Homo sapiens: one gene and its partners. The protein of the gene in region 7 purifies or fractionates together with the protein of the main gene of each other region. This does not show direct contact. Each region holds a gene or a part of one and is shown on either strand. Other genes may lie near its edges.

What was found.
Region 1: the proteins of MAGEA9 (region 7) and CNST purify together in Homo sapiens (affinity purification with mass spectrometry, with the first as the bait; one large-scale study listed by BioGRID). This does not show direct contact.
Region 2: the proteins of MAGEA9 (region 7) and IFFO2 purify together in Homo sapiens (affinity purification with mass spectrometry, with the first as the bait; one large-scale study listed by BioGRID). This does not show direct contact.
Region 3: the proteins of MAGEA9 (region 7) and CNOT6L purify together in Homo sapiens (affinity purification with mass spectrometry, with the first as the bait; one large-scale study listed by BioGRID). This does not show direct contact.
Region 4: the proteins of MAGEA9 (region 7) and MTO1 purify together in Homo sapiens (affinity purification with mass spectrometry, with the first as the bait; one large-scale study listed by BioGRID). This does not show direct contact.
Region 5: the proteins of MAGEA9 (region 7) and KIF2C purify together in Homo sapiens (affinity purification with mass spectrometry, with the first as the bait; one large-scale study listed by BioGRID). This does not show direct contact.
Region 6: the proteins of MAGEA9 (region 7) and CTTNBP2NL purify together in Homo sapiens (affinity purification with mass spectrometry, with the first as the bait; one large-scale study listed by BioGRID). This does not show direct contact.

What each region holds. Positions count from the first base shown.
Region 1 is NC_000001.11:246,569,456-246,572,955, reverse strand, and holds part of CNST (consortin), read right to left. Parts: intron 3,088-3,500; exon of another isoform or gene 3,083-3,087; coding exon of another isoform or gene 2,966-3,082; intron 1-2,965. UniProt on the Homo sapiens protein: Required for targeting of connexins to the plasma membrane.
Region 2 is NC_000001.11:18,946,677-18,950,176, forward strand, and holds part of IFFO2 (intermediate filament family orphan 2), read right to left. Parts: intron 1-3,500.
Region 3 is NC_000004.12:77,712,887-77,715,627, forward strand, and holds the end of CNOT6L (CCR4-NOT transcription complex subunit 6-like), read right to left. Parts: 3' UTR 501-2,741; downstream 1-500. UniProt on the Homo sapiens protein: Has 3'-5' poly(A) exoribonuclease activity for synthetic poly(A) RNA substrate.
Region 4 is NC_000006.12:73,468,237-73,471,736, forward strand, and holds part of MTO1 (5-taurinomethyluridine-[tRNA] synthase subunit MTO1, mitochondrial), read left to right. Parts: intron 1-3,500. UniProt on the Homo sapiens protein: Component of the GTPBP3-MTO1 complex that catalyzes the 5-taurinomethyluridine (taum(5)U) modification at the 34th wobble position (U34) of mitochondrial tRNAs (mt-tRNAs), which plays a role in mt-tRNA decoding and mitochondrial translation.
Region 5 is NC_000001.11:44,763,837-44,766,051, forward strand, and holds part of KIF2C (kinesin-like protein KIF2C), read left to right. Parts: intron 1-2,215. UniProt on the Homo sapiens protein: In complex with KIF18B, constitutes the major microtubule plus-end depolymerizing activity in mitotic cells. Regulates the turnover of microtubules at the kinetochore and functions in chromosome segregation during mitosis.
Region 6 is NC_000001.11:112,455,214-112,458,438, reverse strand, and holds part of CTTNBP2NL (CTTNBP2 N-terminal-like protein), read right to left. Parts: intron 2,509-3,225; coding exon 1,027-2,508; 3' UTR 1-1,026. UniProt on the Homo sapiens protein: Regulates lamellipodial actin dynamics in a CTTN-dependent manner. Associates with core striatin-interacting phosphatase and kinase (STRIPAK) complex to form CTTNBP2NL-STRIPAK complexes.
Region 7 is NC_000023.11:149,784,930-149,788,237, forward strand, and holds the end of MAGEA9 (melanoma-associated antigen 9), read left to right. Parts: intron 1-827; 5' UTR 828-914; intron 915-1,072; 5' UTR 1,073-1,141; intron 1,142-1,216; 5' UTR 1,217-1,281; coding exon 1,282-2,229; 3' UTR 2,230-2,808; downstream 2,809-3,308. UniProt on the Homo sapiens protein: Not known, though may play a role in embryonal development and tumor transformation or aspects of tumor progression.

The DNA of each region.
Region 1 (3,500 bases), on a different chromosome or scaffold from region 7:
ATCCAATTTAAGTAAACTTTTTCATGCTTCACAAGTGGAAAAAAAAATCTAAAATGTTAGTTGTTGTTTCATGAGGTAAAAACAAATAACTCAGGCCTGGTGCAGTGACTCACACCTGTAATCCCAGCACTTTGAGAGGCTGAAGTAGGCACTCTGCTCGAGCTCAGGAGTTCAAGACCACCCTAGGCAACATGGCGAAACCCTGCTTCTATTTTTCTAAAAAATTAATAATTAAAAAAACCACATATCACACACATAAATAAATAACTCCACTATTTATTATTCAATAAATAAAACATACATTTGGCTGGGAGTGGTGGCTCACGTCTATAATCCCAGTATTTTGGGAAGTCAAGGCAGGAGGATCACTTGAGCCCAGGAGTTCAGGACTAGCCTGGGCAAAACAGTGAGATCTCATCTCTAAATAACAAACCACACACATTTTCACAAAAATCCTTATTGAAAAATCTTAGGCAATGTTTTTCAGTTCATCTAAAAATTATTTTTAAGATTTAGTTGTATACTGGGAATAAAAGCTGCAGAAGAGAAAAATAATGAACAAGGACAATGCATACAAAAAATCAAAATATAAGCAGTATACTATCAAATACTCAAGGACAGCAGCATTTGATCTTATAAAGTTCCCAAATTTTTTAATAACTTATTTCAAAATCTATAATATAAAAAAGTATTTAATTCATTTATGTATGTATTTTTGAGACAGGGTCTTACTCTGTCACCCAGGCTGGAGTGCAGAGCACAGTGGTGCAGTCATGCTTCACTGCAGCCTTGACCTCCTGTGCTTAGGTGATCCTCCCACCTCAGCCTCCAGAGTAGCTAGGACTACAGGCGTGAGTCCCAGGCATGGCTGTGACTGGCCAAAAACCATTTTTAAAGGTTACTTTACCTTCATTCAAATTAGAAAACCACAGTCACCTAATTCACTGAGTTTTCAAAATGCAGCTAAGGTAGAAAAAATATGTGATTATTTAATCAGGTAGTGGCTCTCCAGAAAAAAACAGGGCAATTATTCTCATAAGAAAATTTAATACATATGCCAATTGCAAAATAATGTTAATTTCTATAATTGCCTAGATACTGTCAATTTAAATATCAAATGCCCAAATGTCAATGAAGGGTGACTAACCAGACAGTGTGGCACATGCCTATAGCCCCAGCTCAGGAGGCTACAGCAGGAGGATCACTTGAGCCCAGGAGTTCAAGGCTAATCTGGGCAACATAGTGAGACCTCATCTCTAAAATAAGTAAATAAATATGACAAAATTTACCATTTACTGTTTCAGAATTTTTCTTAATCTAAAAGGAAAAATCATCTTGATTTGTCAGTATTTTCATAGGCACACACTGTCTTTCCTTTCCACGTGGCTAATGATGATGAAAAACAGGAAGTCCTAAGAGACGGAAGGGTGGAGGGTATAATGGCAAAAAGTTTCCATCTCCAAAATGTTAAAGAGCAGGATCTCAAAACTAAGATAAAAACCATTTGGCCTGGCACAGTGGCTCACGCCTTTAATCCCAGCACTTTGGGAGGCTGAGGTGGGCGGATCACTTGAGGTCAGGAGTTTGAAACCAGCCTGGCCAACATAGTGAAACCCTGTCTCTACTAAAAATACAAAAAATTAGCTGGGTGTGGTGGCACACGCCTGTAATCTCAGCTACTTGGGAGGCTGAGGCAGGAGAATCACTTGAACCCAGGAGGTGGAGGTTGCAGTGAGCTGAGATCTCGTACCACTGCACTCCACCCTGGGCGACAGAGCAAGACTGTCTCAAAAAGGATAAAAACAATTTAAGAAATCTCAAGCTATTATAAGACTTCAGAATTCTGCTAATGATGTGTTCTTTAACGAATATTACAAACAATTATTTCAAATGCTTAAAAAACAAAATTATTCCCTGAGAGGATATATAATTTCCCCCATGAGAATGATTCCTACATAAAGGAAAGCCTGTATTCATGTGAATCTTGAAGGCCCTAAACTGGAAAGGTTACATAACAGTATCAAGACATACATATATTAAGTTAGAATTTCTCATTAAGCATATAATGCTTTTAAAGCCCAGTTAAACCTTATCAGGGCTTTTTAAAAACTGAAGATTACTGCACTATCAATTACTCTTCCTAAAATAACTACAATAAATTTGCTAAGACTCACTTGTAGAAACCAAGCAATGTATTTTCTCTTATCCAACTAAAAGGGTGCCAATAAACAGCTATCTAGTTTTAAATACAAACAAAAAACATTATTATTTTCTTATAGAACATCCACACATCTCTCACAGAACAAGTAACATCCAGTAACTATACCCCTTCCCCAATTCTGTCTTTGATCCTCTAACACTCCCCATAGTCCCTACATTGTGCCAGGTCTATCATGACTATATTTGACAGAGGGAGTTTGTTCACTGACCAGGTAATTTAAAATTTCTTCATACTATAAAGGTTGAGAAGAGGGCATGTTTCCTGTATTAAATTACACTGAATATTAATTAGGCCTTCAGGCTAATTTAGCTATTAATGTAGATATAACACACAGCAGCTAAAGTAGTATTTAGGGAAGTTTATTAGAGCACAGAGGTCAAGACAGGAACAATGATGGGTCTGACTGATCCCCATGGAGGTTAACTGGCTTTAGAGTTACCTTTGTTACAGCAGCTCTGAACCACTGACGGTTCTACGTAAATCACCACCCTTGTTGCAAAAACAACTTGAAGCACGTATGGAGACAGTATGTCAGTTGCTTTATATAAAAACTGCCATCTTTCCTTTTAAATTCCCCTAAACCACCATACACAAGTTAATCTTTTACTTTACTCAGGCTCCCAGCATTCTACAGCCATAAAACCTACTCTCTTCCTTTCTAAATTTTGCTCAAAGATTTGATCTTTCCCTTGGTAAGAAACACCATGATATAAAGAAGCACATTTATAAAACTCTTAGCCTTACCTGAAACTGACTCAGAAAATAACTCTGCAACAACAGGTACTCTACCTGTTCACAATAAAGTTCAATCTTCTTGAAGGTCCTCAAGTTCTCCCTACAATTTAGTCGACAGAAACTCATACTGTGCCTTGACACACTGTTGACGTGCAGATGTAAATAACTAGTAACAATGACACGCCAGGAAATGACTGAACACTATTCATCTTATGAGCCTCATTAAACAAGCATGGGGCTCAACGTTAACACAGTCAACACTAAGAGAAAGAGGCTGGGCATGGTGGCTACGCCTGTAATCTCAACACTTTGAGAGGTTGAGGTGGATCATTTGATCCCAGGAGTTCAGGGCTCCGGGACTGCCACTGCACTCCAGCCTGGGCAATAGAATGAGAATCTGTCTCAAAACAAACAAAACAAAACAAAAACACTAAAAGGAAGAGACTTAGAACTCTCTTCCTGCATAGAAACTTCTCAAATTAAATACCGCAGTACTTCAGGAAGAGGAGTTTTTAATTTACCCCACAGAATCAGACTCTCAGTG
Region 2 (3,500 bases), on a different chromosome or scaffold from region 7:
AAAGTGCTGGGATTACAGGCATGAGCTACCGCACCGGGCCTGGGCTTGCCACTTTCAAGGTGTCTTGGCCCAGTTCCCTCCCCTGCCTCTGTGGCTCAGTTTTAGCATCTCTAAAATGGGCTAATGATAGCACCCAACTCACAGGGTTATTACAGCTTCCATGAATTAAATGTTTGCAAACCACTTTGAATGAAGCCTGGCAAAGAGTAAATGTTGTATAAATATTTAATGAAATTCATTAACTAACACATGTTTATTGTGTTCCTACTATCCGCAAGCACTGTTGGAGAAGGTACTGGGCACATGCTGTTGTCACATGATGCTGCCACATGGCATGACACATTTGTCTATGTCCCCAGATTCTGAGTTCTCGAGGGCAGGGGCCTGGCCCACGGTGGGTACTCAGCCACTGTTCTGAAACCACCACCACTTTGGCTTCTCAGACATCCACACCCAGCAGTCTCATCTTCCCCAACAAGAGGCACCAAACGATTGTAACAACTTCCCTGTTCCCTGGCAAAGTTCACAGCACTGACTGAAAGCAAAAGCTAGGGATACTCCAGCCCAGGGCGGAGGCGAGCTCCCAAACAGCCACCAGAATGCCCGAGGCCCTCTGCTGCTGGTGATCCGTGGATGAGAACCTCGGGCTGGCTGTGCCCTGAGGACACTCAGGGGCCGGGCAAGATAAATGGAGCATTAATTGAGAGCCTGAGATCCACAGCCTGCCCCAGCTTTGCTAGGCAACATTTCACAGAAATGAAAACTGAGGCTCACAGCAGGAAAGCGGCTTGCAATGGGCATGGCCCTTTCTGGGTACAGCACAGGATAAAGGTTGGATCTGGAGCCTGACTTCCAAGTTACTTCTCCTCTCTGAGCCTCGGTTTCCATCCTGCAGTGCCACCACCGGGTTTAAATGAGACCGCGTGGAAATCACCAGACGGGTCATAATATGTGTTCCCTGTTCCCCAACTCCTCCCCTGCCAGCCCTGCCAGCCCCCATTGAGACCTTCTCCAAAGAGCAGGGGCCTGGACAGGCCTGCTACAGTGGCCCGGGAGCCTCATCTGCCTGCTACTGCCAGTGATTCATTTGCTTCTCAAGAAATAATTTCTGTAAAGTGACAGCAGGGAGTCTTCCCAGCGCAGCAGCCGCCTCCTATTCTGCCACCCGCCATGGCAATATTGTGACAGGTGCTGGGGAGACCCCGTGCCTCCTGCCTGCCTCCTCACCCTGAGCCAGCCTTTGGCAACCTCCAGGGGCATGGGACAAGGCCACCTCCTGGGAGGAGCACTGACCTTGGGGTCCAGAGACCCAGACGGACTCGTGGCGAGATCTGGGACAGAAGTCTTCACCTCTCTGAACCTCTCATTTGTAAAATGAGCATAATCACTTCCCACTGCTTGGGACTGCTCCCATAATTATCACATATTTAAAGAAGTCATCACTGCACCTAGCACAAAGTAGGTGCTCAATAAACGGAAGCATTAAGCCATATTGATTTATTTTCAAATCCTTTTGCAAAATGTTTTCCTACTGCACTGTTTTAATTGACTTTTACCTCAACCCTGGGAAGCAGAACTCGTAAGAAACCACACCCCCATTGTACAGAGCGACAAACTGAGGTGCAAGAGATTAAATGGCATGCACAGAGTTGTGCTACATTACGGAGAGAACGTAGTCTTCATAGGGTTGCTGGGCAAGCCCACCTTCCCACTGTCCCCATTCCCACGTGGGCATAGTGAAGCTCAGACCACATCGCAGGCAAACCCAGACCAGGACCTGGGCTCCACGGACCCTCCAGAGAACCAGGCATTGCCATTTGCCAGGTTTACTGTTGGGTGAAAACTACCCTCTCTTGTACCAGGTCTAGAATGAGAAACCACATCCTGCTCAGGAAGCCAAGCACCCGGTGCCCAGTGTGGGTGGGAGGACACTCCCCTCGTGGGCAGGCGGCGGCAACATCACAAACCTTCAGCAGTCTCCCATCTGGCCTGGAATTTTCTAAACACCTCACAGTCTGGCAATGCTCAAAGGGCTGTGCAACTCACAGATGCTGCCAGCAAAGGGCACGGGACACCCTCTCCCAGTTTCCAGCTTGGTTCTCAACCTCTGCCCACCCCACAGGGCCAGCACAGATCTGCCTCTGTAGGGCACCCACTCTCTGCCCTGTGAAATCATTCTGAACTTGACTGTTTACACGCCCTGTGCTGTAGCTAGGCGAGCCTGTCTACTTCTTCCACAACCTCCGGACACAGAGCTTAGCATCCCTGTTTTACAGATGAAGAAACTGAGGCTCGAGAGGCAGTGACTAGCCCAAGCTCACTCGGCTTTTAACTCCTGCCCTGGGGCCCCAGCACCCTGCACTGCCAGGCTTGGGGGTTCATTCAAACTTTGAACTTTGGCCCAGGCCTTCTGATTCCAAGTGCAGGCCCTCCCCTCCACAAACAGCCGAATCCCTGGACGTGGTCTGTGTTGTCCGTCTTCTGTCCCATCCTCCTGGAGGCCTACTAGCTCACAGCAGCCAGACACAGAGGCCTCCCTGCTGCATGAGTATTTACTCAGCATGGACCTTGGCCAGGTCCTGGCTGGGATCTGCCAGTGGGAGACGAAGCCAGAGTTGGAGCCGGCCCCCACAGAGCTTCCAGTCGATGCAGGGGCAGACACATGCCAGGTAGTTACAACTCCGGGTGTGGGGGGCTGTGATCGGGAGGTGGTGGGTGCTTAGGACCGCCTGACAGCAGAAAGTCAGGAAAAAGCAACACATCCCTAATCCTGAGCACAGGGACATGACAGGGCTGCCTCCTTCCCGTCCCGGGCCTTCAGCCATCCGCGACATAGGAAATAAATGGAATGCCAGCCGGCCTTCACCTCTCAATGCGATCAAAAGCCAGGACTGCAAATGCAAAGCCCACAGCCTCCGGTGTCACTGACACATGGCACAGTTTAAATCAATTCTCCTGGAAGGCAACGCATCTCGTTGCAGCAAAGGGCGTGTTCAAATTCCGGGTCTACCCTTCTGTGTCCTTCAAACACGGTCATGTGTGGGGACGTGGGCCACAGGACTGAACGGAGAGTCTGGTGTGTGCATCTGCATGTGTATGTGAATGTGTGTGTGTGCACGTACATGTGTGTGAGTGTGAGTGTGCATACACGTGGGGGGAAGGGGGACCCGGGGACCCGCATCCGGTCTCGTTTGCCAAGGCAAAGCCCCGCCTCGCATTCCTCTGAGAAGGAATCTTCAGCGTCAGCTGTCTCCCTGCTTCCTTTTCTTTTCTGGGACCTCATTCCCCTCCCTCTAGCTTGAGGCTCTGAGAATCGCTCCCAAATTTGTCCCCAGTGAGAATGCCAACCCAGCCAAGGGATTCTGTAATATAGTTCTCAAGGGACCCGAGGCGCTAGATGGAGGGGTTTGTGTGTTTCTCTTAAAGGAAGTTGGGAGAAAGGGCTGGGGGATGGCGAGAGATTTCCGGAGGCACAAATCAACTGCTAAGAGTAGGTCAAA
Region 3 (2,741 bases), on a different chromosome or scaffold from region 7:
CTGGTGGTTGTCTGTCAGTCAGGATCAACTAAATTAAGCCCTAATAACACAACTTTATTGTATTAACACACTGAGATTTAGCAGTTGTTTATTACGCTACATGCCCAAAGGACAGCAGGGGAGTTCTCTTCAACAAAGTCACTTAAGGATCTGGAATGAGAGGTTTCATCTCAACATATACTTCTATGATCACACAGGCAAGAAAAGGAAATATGGCAAATTAAAGACTGGCCCTTAAAGTTCCACTCAGAAGTGACATATATCCCTTTGCACTGGTTTCTTCGGGCAAAGCAAGTCATATAACTAGCTTCAGAATTTTTTTTAAACAATGTACTTAGTAATGTAGTTTTCACCAGAAAAAAAAATGTAGCATGAATTTGTAATTATGTATTTTGCCCTGAATTATCTTGGCTCCCTACTTCACTTTAGAAGAGACGTATCAACCTAAAAGCAGAGGTTTATACTGCACAAATAAAGAGTCAAAAACCAAGACAAAGGTATGCAGTTGCAAAATGGCCATTTATTGCCTACAGGGGAAGGAAAGGGAGGGAGAGAGGGGAAGTACACAGGTGCAAGGAAACAAGCATATATTTAGCCCTATACATCATGTGTGAGCAGTAACCAATCTCCAAAATGGAAAAAAATATTTTGTTATCTGACATAGTAGTTAAGGTTCTTAAGCACCTCCCTTCTGAGCTGCCACAAGATTTAAAAGGCAGGACTGCTTTTTTTTAGTCAATGTTCACATTAATGAAAAAATACTACCAACCGTGTCCTTTTGCACGCACACTTTGTACAGTGTCTATTGTGAAAAACATCTCAGCTGAGCAGTTTTGGTCAAGATTCAGACCTCATCAACTGTTTAACTGTAATAAATAGAAAAATAAAGCAGCTGGTGATTTTGTCAGAGAGAATGTGTTCAGTAAGAGTAGAACCACTTTCTCCAGGGATGGCAGAGAGTGTTAAATGGTTAAAACACCTACAGAACCAGTCTATTAAACATTAAACACTAGCAAGCTACAATTACATGGCACTTCATTAAATAGTCTAATTTAAAAAAAAATCTTAGATTTTAAACTGATTACTGAAACACAAAAACAAGTTGATTTAGTCCTTGGCTTTTTCTTAGAACAAAAGCAAAGTAAATATACAACCTAAAACAGCAGAATTTGTTTTGGAATAGTATCAATGGAAACTACCAAGTATTCAGGGAAAAAGTTACTAAAACACCTTGCTTGGTTTTACAGTCATGTGCTTTGCTTTGCAACCATTAGAATTAGATAGTTACAAAAACACTTTATAGGTCACAGAATGACTCAAATGTATGCAAAATAATGAATTCTTTAACTTAATGCCAGGTAATGAAAATAAATGAACCTTTCCCTACTCAAAACGATAAATTGAGTGGAAAAGTAGATTGTCCCATGGACAATTAGTTGGCACTTGTTATATAGTTGAAAAAAATCACAACAGAAGATATAAATTAATCGATGGTGAATTTGACCAACACCCTGGCCCTTATAGAGAGAAAAAGTACATACACACTCTCTTTAAAAAAAAAAAAAAAAAAAAAAAAAAAAAAAAAAAAAGCCCTCCATACTTCCCCACTCCAGAGACAACAAAGCCAAAGATGAAACATTCAACCTTCTCAAAATATTCCAAGTAGTTCTATTGAACTCTGTATCTCAGCTTCTCCAAGATGAAAAAGTTGTTTGCATTTGGACAACAACTGTACGAATGCCCATAGTGCACATCTCAGTGCTGCTGGTGTTTAAGAAATTTGTCACTCATAACCCTGAACAATTCCAGATCCAGTGTGCAGTAACACAGCCATCCAAATCCCTCCCCTTGAAAAGTTGGCAGAGCACCGCTCAGGAATTTCACAGGTAAGGGAATATATTTTTAGCAAGTTAAGCACAGAGAAAGGACAGTACAGTTTCTAAGTAAATACAGACCCAGATACTGCATCACTTACTGCATCAAGATTGAAACAAGCAGCAGGATACTAAGTCTGTTTGGTAAGAAGCAAAGCCATTGTTTGACATCAATGCTGAACCAATTTTGTGACTTCAGATAACTACAAACTAAATTAAATTGGTACATATAACAATTGATAGCTTGAAAGACAATACATCAGTGATTTGAAGTTAATACGAAACTGAAATGAGCAAGAAAGGACCACTTCTGAGAGGGTTACCATGATTCTTACGCTTTAGAGTTAAAAGTGACAGACATACAACTGGAAAATTATCTAAATTTTGAGAGATTGTTCTAACAAAAATAACTAGTACTAGGCACCAAACTAGAGCCTCCGAAAGATTCTGAAAGCTGAATGGACCATGCTACCACCATGCCAAAAGAGTCATATCACTTGGCATTTGTATATCCTTTCCATAATGTGATTTGTTTCTGATGACATACTTCTAAAATGCAGTTCAATGCTACTCAGTTTATACAATGTACCATAAAAAAAAATTAACAATTAATAAGCACAAATGTCCTTATGTCATAGGCTTTGAAAGTGAAAACTATTTTACTTAAAAAATATTCTATTACTTCAATGTCATGTCTGTTGAACGAAGAACTCAACATGCTTATTTTCCTTTGGTTCCAGGAAAAACCCAAGTCTAACCAAATGTATGCCACAAGGAACTGCCAACTGGGTTAAAGCTTGGTATTTTCCTGGTTATCACCCTATTTCCTGGTGTAGGACCTGGGGTTTAATAGAGACATTTACATAA
Region 4 (3,500 bases), on a different chromosome or scaffold from region 7:
CCTCCCAAGTAGCTGGGGTTACAGGCGACTGCCACCATGCCCGGCTAATTTTTTGTATTTTTAGTAGAGACAGGGTTTCACCATGTTGGTCAGGCTGGTCTTGAACTCCTGACCTCAAGCGATCCGCCCACCTCAGCGTCTGAAAATGCTGGGATTACAGGCATGAGCACTGTGCCCAGCCTATTAACTTATTATTATGGTAATTCTCTTTAATGTCCAATTTTCCTTCCCTCTCTCCTTCTGATATAATTATACCGTAATTTTTGGTTGATAGTATTTACATTATTGACTAAGTATTGTTTACTGCATGGAAGTGTATTATGTTTGTCCCTTTCTTATGCTTGGTTTTGCCTTGAGTTAATAATTGCTTTATTTTATTTATTTATTTTGAGACAGAGTCTCACTCTGTCACCCAGGCTAGAGTGCAGTGGTACGATCTTGGCTCACTGCAACCTCCATCTCCCAGGTTCAAGCAATTCTCCTGCCTCAGCCTCACGAGTAGCTGGGATTACAGACAGCAGCAACCACGCCCAGCTAATTTTTGTGTTTTTAGTGGAGACAGGGTTTTACCATGTTGGCCAGGCTGGTCTTGAACTCCTGACCTCAAGTGATCCGCCTACCTCCACCTCCCAAAGTGCTGGTATTATAGGGGTGAGCCACCACACCTGGCCTTCTCCAGATTTTTTAGTTCTGTTTATGTGTTTGGGCTGCTCTCTTTCATGTACACAACTTCCTTTAAGTATCTAGCGAACTTTGGTTTTCTGTTGACTTCTTTGCGTTTTTGGTTTTGGAGACAGGGTCTTACTCTGTCACCCAGGATGGAGTGCAGTGGCACTATAATCGCTCACTGTAGCCTCCACCTCCCAGAGGTGATCCTTCCACCTCAACCTCCCAAGTAGCTGGGACTATAGGTGTACACTACCACACCCAGCTTATTTTCAATTTTTTTGGAGACGTGGGATCTCCCTATGTTGCTTCCCTGTGTTGCCTAGACTGGTCTTGAACTCCTAGGCTCAAGTGATCCTCCCACCTCAACCACCCAAAGTGTTGGGATTACAGGCATGAGCTGCCATGCCCAGCCTGTTACATTTTTAAATGAGGCACTAGGTCGGGCATGGTGGCTCACGCCTGTAATCCCAGCACTTTGGGAGGCTGAGGCGGGCGGATCACTGAGGTCAGGAGTTTGAGACTAGCCTGGCCAACATGGTGAACCTGTCTCTACTAAAAATAAAAAAATTAGCTGGGCGTGGTGGCATGCACCTGTAATCCCAGCTACTCAGGAGGCTGAGGCAAGAGAATCGCTTGAACCCAGGAGGCGGAGGTTGCAGTGAGCCGAGATCGTGCCACTGCACTCCAGCCTGGGCGACAAGAGTGAGACTCCATCTCTAAATAAATAAATAAGGCGCTAAAACACTTAACTGGAAGATTTGTGTGTACACAGTTAATTTTATTGCCTGGCTGATTCTGGTGGTGATTAAGACTTGAACTGCTGGACACGGTGGCTCACGCCTGTAATCCCAGCACTTTAGGAGGCCGAGGTGGGTGGATCACCTGAGGTTGGGAGTTGAAGACCAGCCTGACCAACATGGAGAAACCCCGTCTCTACTAAAAATACAAAATTACCCAGGTGTGGTGGCACATGCCTGTAATCCTAGCCACTCGGGAGGCTGAGGCAGGAGAACCACTTGAACCCTGGAGGTGCGGGTTGTGGTAAGCCGTGATAGTGCCACTGCACTCCAGCCTGGTAACGAGCAAAACTCCGTCTCAAAAAAAAAGAAAAGATTTGAACCAGCCTTTTGGTTTGGTGAATTCTCAAATATCAATGTCTGTTAGTTCTCAGAAGAATCAGTTTTCCACCTAAGAGAGTAATATGGCTACCCACTAGCGTTCTGGGAACAAAATGGTAAGAGAGGCTGTGCCAGGGAGTGTCATCTTTTATTTTATTTTATTTATTTATTTATTTTTATTTTTTCTTTTTATTTATTTTTGAGACAGAGTCTCACTGTGTAGCCCAGGCTGGAGTGCAATGGCGTGATCTCGGCTTACTGCAACCTCTGCCCCCCAGGTTCAAGCGATTCTCCTGCCTCAGCCTCTCGAGTAGCTGGGACTACAGGCACGTGCCACCATGCCCGGCTACTTTTTTGTATTTTTAGTAGAGATGGGGTTTCACTGTGTTAGCCAGGATGTTCTCGATCTCCTGACCTTGTGGTCCGCCCACCTCGGCCTCCCAAAGTGCTGGGATTACAGGCATGAGCCACCGCGCGTGGCCCAGGAGTGTCATCTTTTAAAATACATATCTTAATTCCCATTTTCATTTTTATTATAGATTTATTAATTTTCTTGATTGGGAAATACATACTTAGGGCCAACAACTTAAAGGCTACAAAAAGCATATAGAGTGAAAAGATAGTCTGTCTTAGCTGGGCATTATGGGCATTATGTGATTATGGCTCACACCTATAATCCCAGCACTTTGGAAGGCCGAGGCAGGTGGATCACCTGAGGTCGGGAGTTTGAGACCAGTCTGGCCAACATGGCGAAACTCGTCTCTACTAAAAATACAAAAATTAGCCAGGCATGATGGCTCACGCCTGTAGTCCCAGCTACTCAGGAGGCTAAGGCAGGAGAATCACTTGAACCTGGGAGATGGAGGTTGCAGTGAGCTGAGATCTTGCTACTGCACTCCAGCCTGGGTGAGAGAGCAAGAGTCTGTCTCAATAGAAAAAAAAAAGATAGTCTGTCTCCTTCACTTTGTCCCCTCAACCAGCCAGTTTTCTTTCTCAGGAGCATTTGCTTTGTTAATCTGTTGTGTGGTCTTTCTACCTAGGCATATGTACATGTCTTCATGCATATGTATATGTATTTTTTGTTGTTTTCACAAAATCGTAGCATATTATACACACTGTTCCTCTGTACCTTTTTTTAAAAAAAAAACTTAATCTGTGTTTGCTTTGCTTTTGGAGGCCATGCTTTTTTTTTTTAAGTTTGTGGGTTTGTTCCGATGGTTACCTTAAAAGCTATGATTTTATATATAATATAATATGCTCACTGACTTCCCTCAAGTAACAATTACTAAATTAGTTTTACTTTCATTTCCTTTTCTCCCCCGACTTTCTTTATTTTCCAGATTTAATGGTTATATTGTTTTTATTAGTATTTATGTTTATACCCTTAAATTGTTTATTTTTTTATTTTTGAGACAAGTTCTCTCCCTCTTTCTTAGGCTGGAGTGCAGTGGCATGATCACAGCTCGCTGTAGCCTCGACCACCTGGACCCAAGTGATCTTCCTGCCTCAGCCTCCTGTGTAGCTGGGACCACAGGCATGTGTCACCACCCCTGGCTAATTTATTATTTTTTTTTGTAGAGATGGGGGTCTCACTATGTTGCCAGGACTGGTCTTGAACCCCAGGGCTCCAGTGATCTTCCTGCCCCAGTCTCTCAAAGTGTTCATATTATAGTCATGAGCCACTGAGCCTGGCCGATTTAATTTAATATCTTT
Region 5 (2,215 bases), on a different chromosome or scaffold from region 7:
CAGCCTGGCCAACGTGGCGAAACCCCATGTCTACTAAATACAAAAAATTAGCCGAGTATGGTGGCGGGCGCCTGTAATCTCAGCTACTTGGGAGGCTGAGGCAGGAGAATTACTTGAACCAGGGAGGCAAAGGTTGTAGTGAGTCAAGATCGTGCCACTGCACTCTAGCCTGGGTGACAGAGCAAGACTCCATCTCAGAAAAAAAAAAAGAGAAACTAGTGCCTAGACCAAACTGTGTCCGTGTTCATGGGATTGGAATGAGGACATGAGATTCATGAACCATTTAGATATACAAGCATGAAAATCTTACAAGGTACCCCCCAAAATATGTACTCTCTCTCTATATATATATGTTTTTGAGACAGAGTCTCACTCGTCACCCAGGCTGGAGTTTAGTGGTGCAATCTTGGCTCACTGCAGCCTCCGCCTCCTGGGTTCAAGCGATTCTCCTTCCTCAGCCTCCTGCGTACCTGGGATTACAGGTGCGTGCCACCATGCCTGGCTAATTTTTTGTATTTTTAGTAGAGATGGGGTTTTACCATGTTGGCCAGGCTGGTCTTGAACTCCTGATCTTAAGTGATCCGCCTGCCTCAGCCTCCCAAAGTGCTGGGATTACAGGTGTGAGCCACCATGCCCAGCCTATATATCTGGTTGGTTTTTGTTTGTTTGTTTGTTTGTTTGTTTTGGGGGGGGATGGAGTTTCGCTTTTGTCCCCCAGGCTGGAGTGCAACGGCACCATCTCGGCTCACCACAACCTCCACCTCCCAGGTTCAAGCAATTCTCCTGCCTCAGCCTCCCAAGTAGCTGGGATTACAGGCATGTGCCACCACGCCCAGCTAATTTTGTATTTTTAGTAGAGACGGGATTTCTCCATGTTGGTCAGGCTGGTCTCGAACTCCCTACCTCAGGTGATCCTCCCGCCCCGACCTCCCAAAGTGCTGGGATTACAGGCGTGAGCCACCACGCCCAGTCGTATATCTATTATTTAAAAAGAATCATTTGACCGGGCGCAATGGCTCACGCCTGTAATCCTGTCACTTTGGGAGGCTGAGGCGGCCACATCAACTAAGGTCGGGAGTTTGAAACCAGCCTGGCCAACATGGTGAAACCCCGTCTCTACTAAAAATACAAAAATTAGCCAGGCATGGTGGCAGGCATCTGTTATCCCAGCTACTTGGGAGGCTGAGGCAGGAGAATCACTTGAGCCCAGGAGGCGAAGGTTATAGTGAGCCGAGATGGTGCCACTGCACTCCAGCCTGGGCAACAGAGCAAGACTGTCTCAAAAATAAAATAAAATAATCATTTGGCCAGGTGCAGTGAGTCATGCCTGTAATCCCAACACTTTGGGAGGTCAAGGAAGGAAGATCACTTGAGCTCAGGAGTTCGAGACCAGCCTGGGTAACATGGCCCCATCTCTACAAAAAATAAAAATAAATAAATATCCCAAAGGTGGTGTGTGCAGCAAAAATTATAATAAAAAGAACTGAGGGTAGGGATAGCATTAGGAGATATACCCAATGTAAATGACAAGTTAATGGGTGCAGCACACCAACATAGTTCATGTATACATATGTAACAAACCTGCACGTTGTGCACATGTACCCTAGAACTTAAAGTATAATAATAAAAAAAGAAAGAAAGAAAGAAAAAAACCATTTAGGGAGCAGAATTGAGGAGGATTTGGTGACAAGTACGGTGAAAGAATAAAGTCACTCGGGCTGGGCGCGGTGGCTTATGCCTATAATCCCAGCACTTTGGGAGGCCAAGGCAGGCAGATCACAAGGTCAGGAGATCAAGACCATCCTGGCCAACATAGTGAAACCCTGTCTCTACTAAAAAATAAAAAAAAATAGCCTGGTGTGGTGGCGCGTACCTGTAGTCTCAGCTACTCGGGAGGCTGAGTTGTATACCTATTATTTAAAAAGAATCATTTGACCGGGCGTGATGGCTCACGCCTGTAATCCTAGCACTTTAGGAGGCTGATGCAGGCAGATCAACTAAGGTCGGGAATTTGAGACCAGCCTGGCTAACAAGGTGAAATCTTGTCTCTACTAAAAATACAAAAATTAGCCAGGCATGGTGGCAGGCACCTGTAATCCCAGCTACTTGGGAGGCTGAGGCAGGAGAATCACTTGAACCCGGGAGGCGGAGGTTGCAGTGAGCCGAGATCACGCCACTGCACTCCAACCTGGCGACAGAGCAAGACTCCGTCTTA
Region 6 (3,225 bases), on a different chromosome or scaffold from region 7:
TATACTTCCCATTTAAGCAAAAGTTAATTTGGTTTTACAGATACAGATACCAGGTTCTGGCAGCTTGGAGAATAAGTGTAACAATTTGGTAAAACTTGTATAATTCTGACTGACCTATAATATTACAGAGTGAATTTCAAGTTATTGCTTTTTGATTACAGAATAAAAAATTCATTCTCTTGCAAAACTTTTATACAGAATGAGTAACCATTTCCTATTCAAGTAACAGCAATCAGAATCAGAAGTTCCTTACACAACAGTAGATGCTTGAGACATTTTTTGAATGGAGATGTGATTTCATTCTGTTCAAGAACTTATGCAGGAAACTGGGAGTGACTTAATTTTTCAAAAGTACAAGAAAATCAGCACCCCAACTGCTTAGTGCTCAGGAGGGTTTCTCAAGGGCTCTATAAAGCTCAGCTTGTGGTGAGTTCACACCCACCTTTAGAAGGATTCCCATTCTACTTATGCAGCCTTGTTTCAGAACACAAAGCTTGTATTAAAACATTAAAAGAGGATTAAAAGCAGTGTTGGTTTTTAACATTCAGAATTCACAGAGGATCTCATTTTCTGTAATTAAATGATCTATTTTGTGTTTTTTGCTGCAGAATCACATTCATATGGCAGTCATATTTCAGGCACTTTTAAAACATGTTCATCTGGAATAAAAATCTGCATGAACCACTTCTGCATAATTCAAAATGAGTGTTGAGTGATTCTAGTTCTCAAATAGATAGCAAATCACCACCTGGTGATTCGCTTTCTTCATCACAACATGACGGTGACTGCTGAGCTTGAGACATCTTTGAGGTGCCTTTCTGGCTTCAGTAAAAAGATGTGAGCCATAAAAATCCAAACTACTCAGTTTCTACTTAAAAAAATACAAAATGGTGAAATATACTAAATGTATTATACAGATGGTTTCAGCTACTATCAAAATAAATAACATAATCTGACTCAGAAGTCTGACTGAGCTTTTGGACGAAATCTGATGGAATGTCAAACGTGGAGACTCCCTCCTAGGGACTAGCTGCTGGTAGGCAAAAGTAACTCAACATCCTTACCATTTGCTACAACAGTATTGGAAGAGCAGCTGCTGGCAAGGTCTTCTGCAGTGGTCAAAGAGGCTGCCTGGGAATGAGTTTTGGTCAATGGAGTGGTAGCAGATGGAGAAGGGGTGAGGCCAGGTTTCTTGGGTGGGATGGGTGGAGGGTTTCCTCTCTCAGCTCTGGGGATGGTTGGGGACTTGATTCCTGGAGACAGGGGGCTCAGGGGACTGGACACTTTCCCTGGAGTAGGTGAATGGCTTGTGTCACCTCTTGGATTGGCAGTGTTGGCTAGATTTCGATAGTCTGTGCCAAAGGGAGAGCTGTTGGGAGAGACTGGCTTGATTGGCCCTTGTTGGCTAGTGAATCTGGAGAGCACCTGAGTGACTGTGTTTCGGGCCAGCTGCTTGGCGGCAGAGTTGTCTATGAGGGTGGGGGATAAATCCCTGGATGGAGGGCTCTGTAGGCCACTGGCTTGTTGGTCCTGATCTGCTTGGGACTGAAATTTGTGGCGAGCTGCATGGAACCGTTGGTTGATCCCTACTTGGTACGATGACTGGTAGCCAGGGCTGCTAGCTGATGACCCCAATAAACGCTTAGTGAGTACCGGCGAAGAGCAAGGAGAGGATGTTAGAGAGGAGGAGGCAGTGCTGCTGGGAGACAGTGAGCTCCCACTGGAAGAGAGGGGACTGGGCATTGGGACTGGAGTCTCAATCCCCACAGGACACCCACCATTCTCCACTGGTTTCTCTTGGGCCAATGCCACAGATTTTTCCCGTGGAGGCACCTGGTTTTCTACATTGTTGCCTGCAGTCAGCTCCCTGGTAGTTTGTATCTCTGGGTCACAATGGCCATTGGTTTTTGCATATGAGTAAGCAGGAGTGGCAGGACCAGGCAGCCCAGTGTTTGTCATCTTGGCTATGTTGCTCCCATGGGTTCTTTCTGCTGGAAAACTCTCTGTTTGGCAAAACACAGACATTAGCATGAGAGGCTCAGTTGCTGTGCCTTTGGACACGGTTACTGGTTTCTTCAATTGCTCATTAGGGCTACTGTGCTGGTGGGAAGCCTCTAGGTCCTTCACTATCTTCTTTAAACTTTCCATTTCTTCTTTCAGGGTTTTGGTCCGGTTCTCTTCTCGGTTCAGTTTTGCTCTCAGTTGTTCCCTTTCGATGTCAAACTCTGATAACTGCTTCTCTACCTGGGCCTCAGTCTGCAAGCCTCTCTTTCTCTCAGCTGCCAACTCTTCTTCCAGTTTACTCACCCGGCTCTTCTCCTTCTCCAATTTCAGGCTCAGCTCTCCTGCCTTCTGTCCTTCCTCGGCTGCCTTGTTGGTGGCTTTCTTGCACTCAAGCACTAGCATGGATGAGAGCTGCTTGTGGCGGGAGCGCTCCTCTTCCAGCTGACTAGAGAGCTTCTTCTGTTCTTTTTCAAACTTTTTCACTTGGGATTTTTCAAATTCCAACTAGAAAAAAAAAGAAAAGAGAGACATACTGACAAACTGTGATCAAGTAGACTGTCTTCGTTAGCTGTTCTCTGGTATACAGGATTAACATGCACATCACAGTGCTTAGATCAAGTATTTCTGAAATTTTAGAACACCTAACACAAAAAATGCACACACTATGATTTAATCTTTCTTTGATGATTTGGGAGGCACTTCTAGTTCCCATACTGTCTTGCAGTGATTAGTGGGAATATGACGTATCTTTGTGTTTCACGTATGTGGAGAGCATCAGAACCAATCAAAACAAGATAACAGAAAGCTGTATCAACCACATTTTGTGATGAATGTTGCTGAAAACAAACATTTTAAAGTTTCAGCAATAATTTTCTTGGGTCTCAGAAACAAACACACACAAATAGTTGCATTTGAATCATACTTTTTTTTGGAGACTGAGTTTCACTCTTGTCTCCCAGGCTGGAGTGCAATGGTGCAATATTGGCTCACTGCAACCTCCGCCTTCTGGGTTCAAGCGATTCTCCTGCCTCAGCCTCCCGGGTAGCTGGGATCAGTCATGCGCCACCACACCCGCCTAATTTTGTATTTTTAGTAGAGACAGGGTTTTTCCATGTTGGTCAGGCTGGTCTCAAACTCCTGACCTTAGGTGATCCACCCACCTCGGCCTCCAAAAGTGCTGGGATTACAGGCGTGAACCACTGTGCCCAGCCTGAATCATAT
Region 7 (3,308 bases):
GTGGACAAAACAGGGAGGCCCTGTGTTCGACAGACACAGTGGTCCCAGGATTGGAGAGCAGTCCAGGTGAGGAACCTAAGGGAGGATCGAGGGTACCTCCAGGCCAGAGAAACTCTCAGATCAAGAGAGTTTGCCCTGCCCCTACTGTCACCCCAGAGAGCCCGGGCAGGGCTGTCTGCTGAGGTCCCTCCTTTATCCTGGGATCACTGGTGTCGGGGAGGGCTGGCCTTGGTCTGAGGGGGCTGCACTCACGTCAGCAGAGGGAGGGTCCCAGGCCCTGCCAGGAGTCCAGGTGCAGACTGAGGGGACCCCACTCACCAAACACAGAGGACCTAGCCCCACCCTGCCCCTTGTGTCAGCTGAGGGAAGCCGCTGGGTGGATGGACTCCCCTCACTTCCTCTTCAGGTGTCTCCTGGAGATAGGGCCTCAGGTCAACAGAGGGAGGGTTCCAGACCCTGCAGGCATCAAGATGAGGACCAGGCAGTATCCTCACCCCAGGACACATGGACCCCATTGAATTTAGACATCTCTTACTGTACTTCCGAGGAAACCCTGGGCAGGTGTGGGCAGATGTTGGTTGGGGCATGTCCTTCTGTTCCATATCAGGGATGTGAGCTCCTGATCTGAGAGACTCTCAGGCAAGTAGAGGAGTAGAGTCCAGTCCCTGCCAGGAGAAAGGTCAGGGCCCTGAGTGAGCGCAGAGGGGACCATCCACCCCAAAAGTGTGTAGAACTCAAGAGTGTCCAGCCCGCCATCTTGACAGCACTGAGGGACCGGGGCTCTGCCTGCAGTCTGCAGCCTAAGGGCCCCTCGATTCCTCTTCCAGGAGCTCCAGGAAGCAGGCAGGCCTTGGTCTGAGACAGTGTCCTCAGGTCGCAGAGCAGAGGAGACCCAGGCAGTGTCAGCAGTGAAGGTGAAGTGTTCACCCTGAATGTGCACCAAGGGCCCCACCTGCCCCAGCACACATGGGACCCCATAGCACCTGGCCCCATTCCCCCTACTGTCACTCATAGAGCCTTGATCTCTGCAGGCTAGCTGCACGCTGAGTAGCCCTCTCACTTCCTCCCTCAGGTTCTCGGGACAGGCTAACCAGGAGGACAGGAGCCCCAAGAGGCCCCAGAGCAGCACTGACGAAGACCTGTAAGTCAGCCTTTGTTAGAACCTCCAAGGTTCGGTTCTCAGCTGAAGTCTCTCACACACTCCCTCTCTCCCCAGGCCTGTGGGTCTCCATCGCCCAGCTCCTGCCCACGCTCCTGACTGCTGCCCTGACCAGAGTCATCATGTCTCTCGAGCAGAGGAGTCCGCACTGCAAGCCTGATGAAGACCTTGAAGCCCAAGGAGAGGACTTGGGCCTGATGGGTGCACAGGAACCCACAGGCGAGGAGGAGGAGACTACCTCCTCCTCTGACAGCAAGGAGGAGGAGGTGTCTGCTGCTGGGTCATCAAGTCCTCCCCAGAGTCCTCAGGGAGGCGCTTCCTCCTCCATTTCCGTCTACTACACTTTATGGAGCCAATTCGATGAGGGCTCCAGCAGTCAAGAAGAGGAAGAGCCAAGCTCCTCGGTCGACCCAGCTCAGCTGGAGTTCATGTTCCAAGAAGCACTGAAATTGAAGGTGGCTGAGTTGGTTCATTTCCTGCTCCACAAATATCGAGTCAAGGAGCCGGTCACAAAGGCAGAAATGCTGGAGAGCGTCATCAAAAATTACAAGCGCTACTTTCCTGTGATCTTCGGCAAAGCCTCCGAGTTCATGCAGGTGATCTTTGGCACTGATGTGAAGGAGGTGGACCCCGCCGGCCACTCCTACATCCTTGTCACTGCTCTTGGCCTCTCGTGCGATAGCATGCTGGGTGATGGTCATAGCATGCCCAAGGCCGCCCTCCTGATCATTGTCCTGGGTGTGATCCTAACCAAAGACAACTGCGCCCCTGAAGAGGTTATCTGGGAAGCGTTGAGTGTGATGGGGGTGTATGTTGGGAAGGAGCACATGTTCTACGGGGAGCCCAGGAAGCTGCTCACCCAAGATTGGGTGCAGGAAAACTACCTGGAGTACCGGCAGGTGCCCGGCAGTGATCCTGCGCACTACGAGTTCCTGTGGGGTTCCAAGGCCCACGCTGAAACCAGCTATGAGAAGGTCATAAATTATTTGGTCATGCTCAATGCAAGAGAGCCCATCTGCTACCCATCCCTTTATGAAGAGGTTTTGGGAGAGGAGCAAGAGGGAGTCTGAGCACCAGCCGCAGCCGGGGCCAAAGTTTGTGGGGTCAGGGCCCCATCCAGCAGCTGCCCTGCCCCATGTGACATGAGGCCCATTCTTCGCTCTGTGTTTGAAGAGAGCAATCAGTGTTCTCAGTGGCAGTGGGTGGAAGTGAGCACACTGTATGTCATCTCTGGGTTCCTTGTCTATTGGGTGATTTGGAGATTTATCCTTGCTCCCTTTTGGAATTGTTCAAATGTTCTTTTAATGGTCAGTTTAATGAACTTCACCATCGAAGTTAATGAATGACAGTAGTCACACATATTGCTGTTTATGTTATTTAGGAGTAAGATTCTTGCTTTTGAGTCACATGGGGAAATCCCTGTTATTTTGTGAATTGGGACAAGATAACATAGCAGAGGAATTAATAATTTTTTTGAAACTTGAACTTAGCAGCAAAATAGAGCTCATAAAGAAATAGTGAAATGAAAATGTAGTTAATTCTTGCCTTATACCTCTTTCTCTCTCCTGTAAAATTAAAACATATACATGTATACCTGGATTTGCTTGGCTTCTTTGAGCATGTAAGAGAAATAAAAATTGAAAGAATAATTTTTCCTGTTCACTGGCTCATTTTTTCTTCAGACACGCACTGAACATCTGTTATTCGGAACACCCTGGGTTAGTAGTAGAGATGCTCGGTAAGCCAGACCCACCCCTTTGCCATAGGGTGGTGAAGTCTAGGGGCTACAATCCTAAAATTAAGGTGGTGCCATGTCCTCTAAGAAGTAGAGGAAAATAAAACATGGGTGAGGGTTTGGGGCTCTAGATGACAGCAGTCGAGTGTATATGCCCTGAGCCAGGGCCCTTTGGGCTTTGGGAAACTGCAGTTCCTTCTGGGGGAGGTAATTCTATTGAAGCTGGGTGGTGCCAGAGCCAGATTCTCAGAGGATGAGAGAAAGGCCTGGAATGGACGACTGCTCAGCAGTTCCTTTTGGATAGTGGATGAACAGAGAAGAGTCTCCACCTGGGGCAGGAATAGAAGGAAATCGTCCCGCGCTCTTGTCTCGGTGCGCTTGAACACAGTGCAGGGGCTAGGTGATGGATACCTA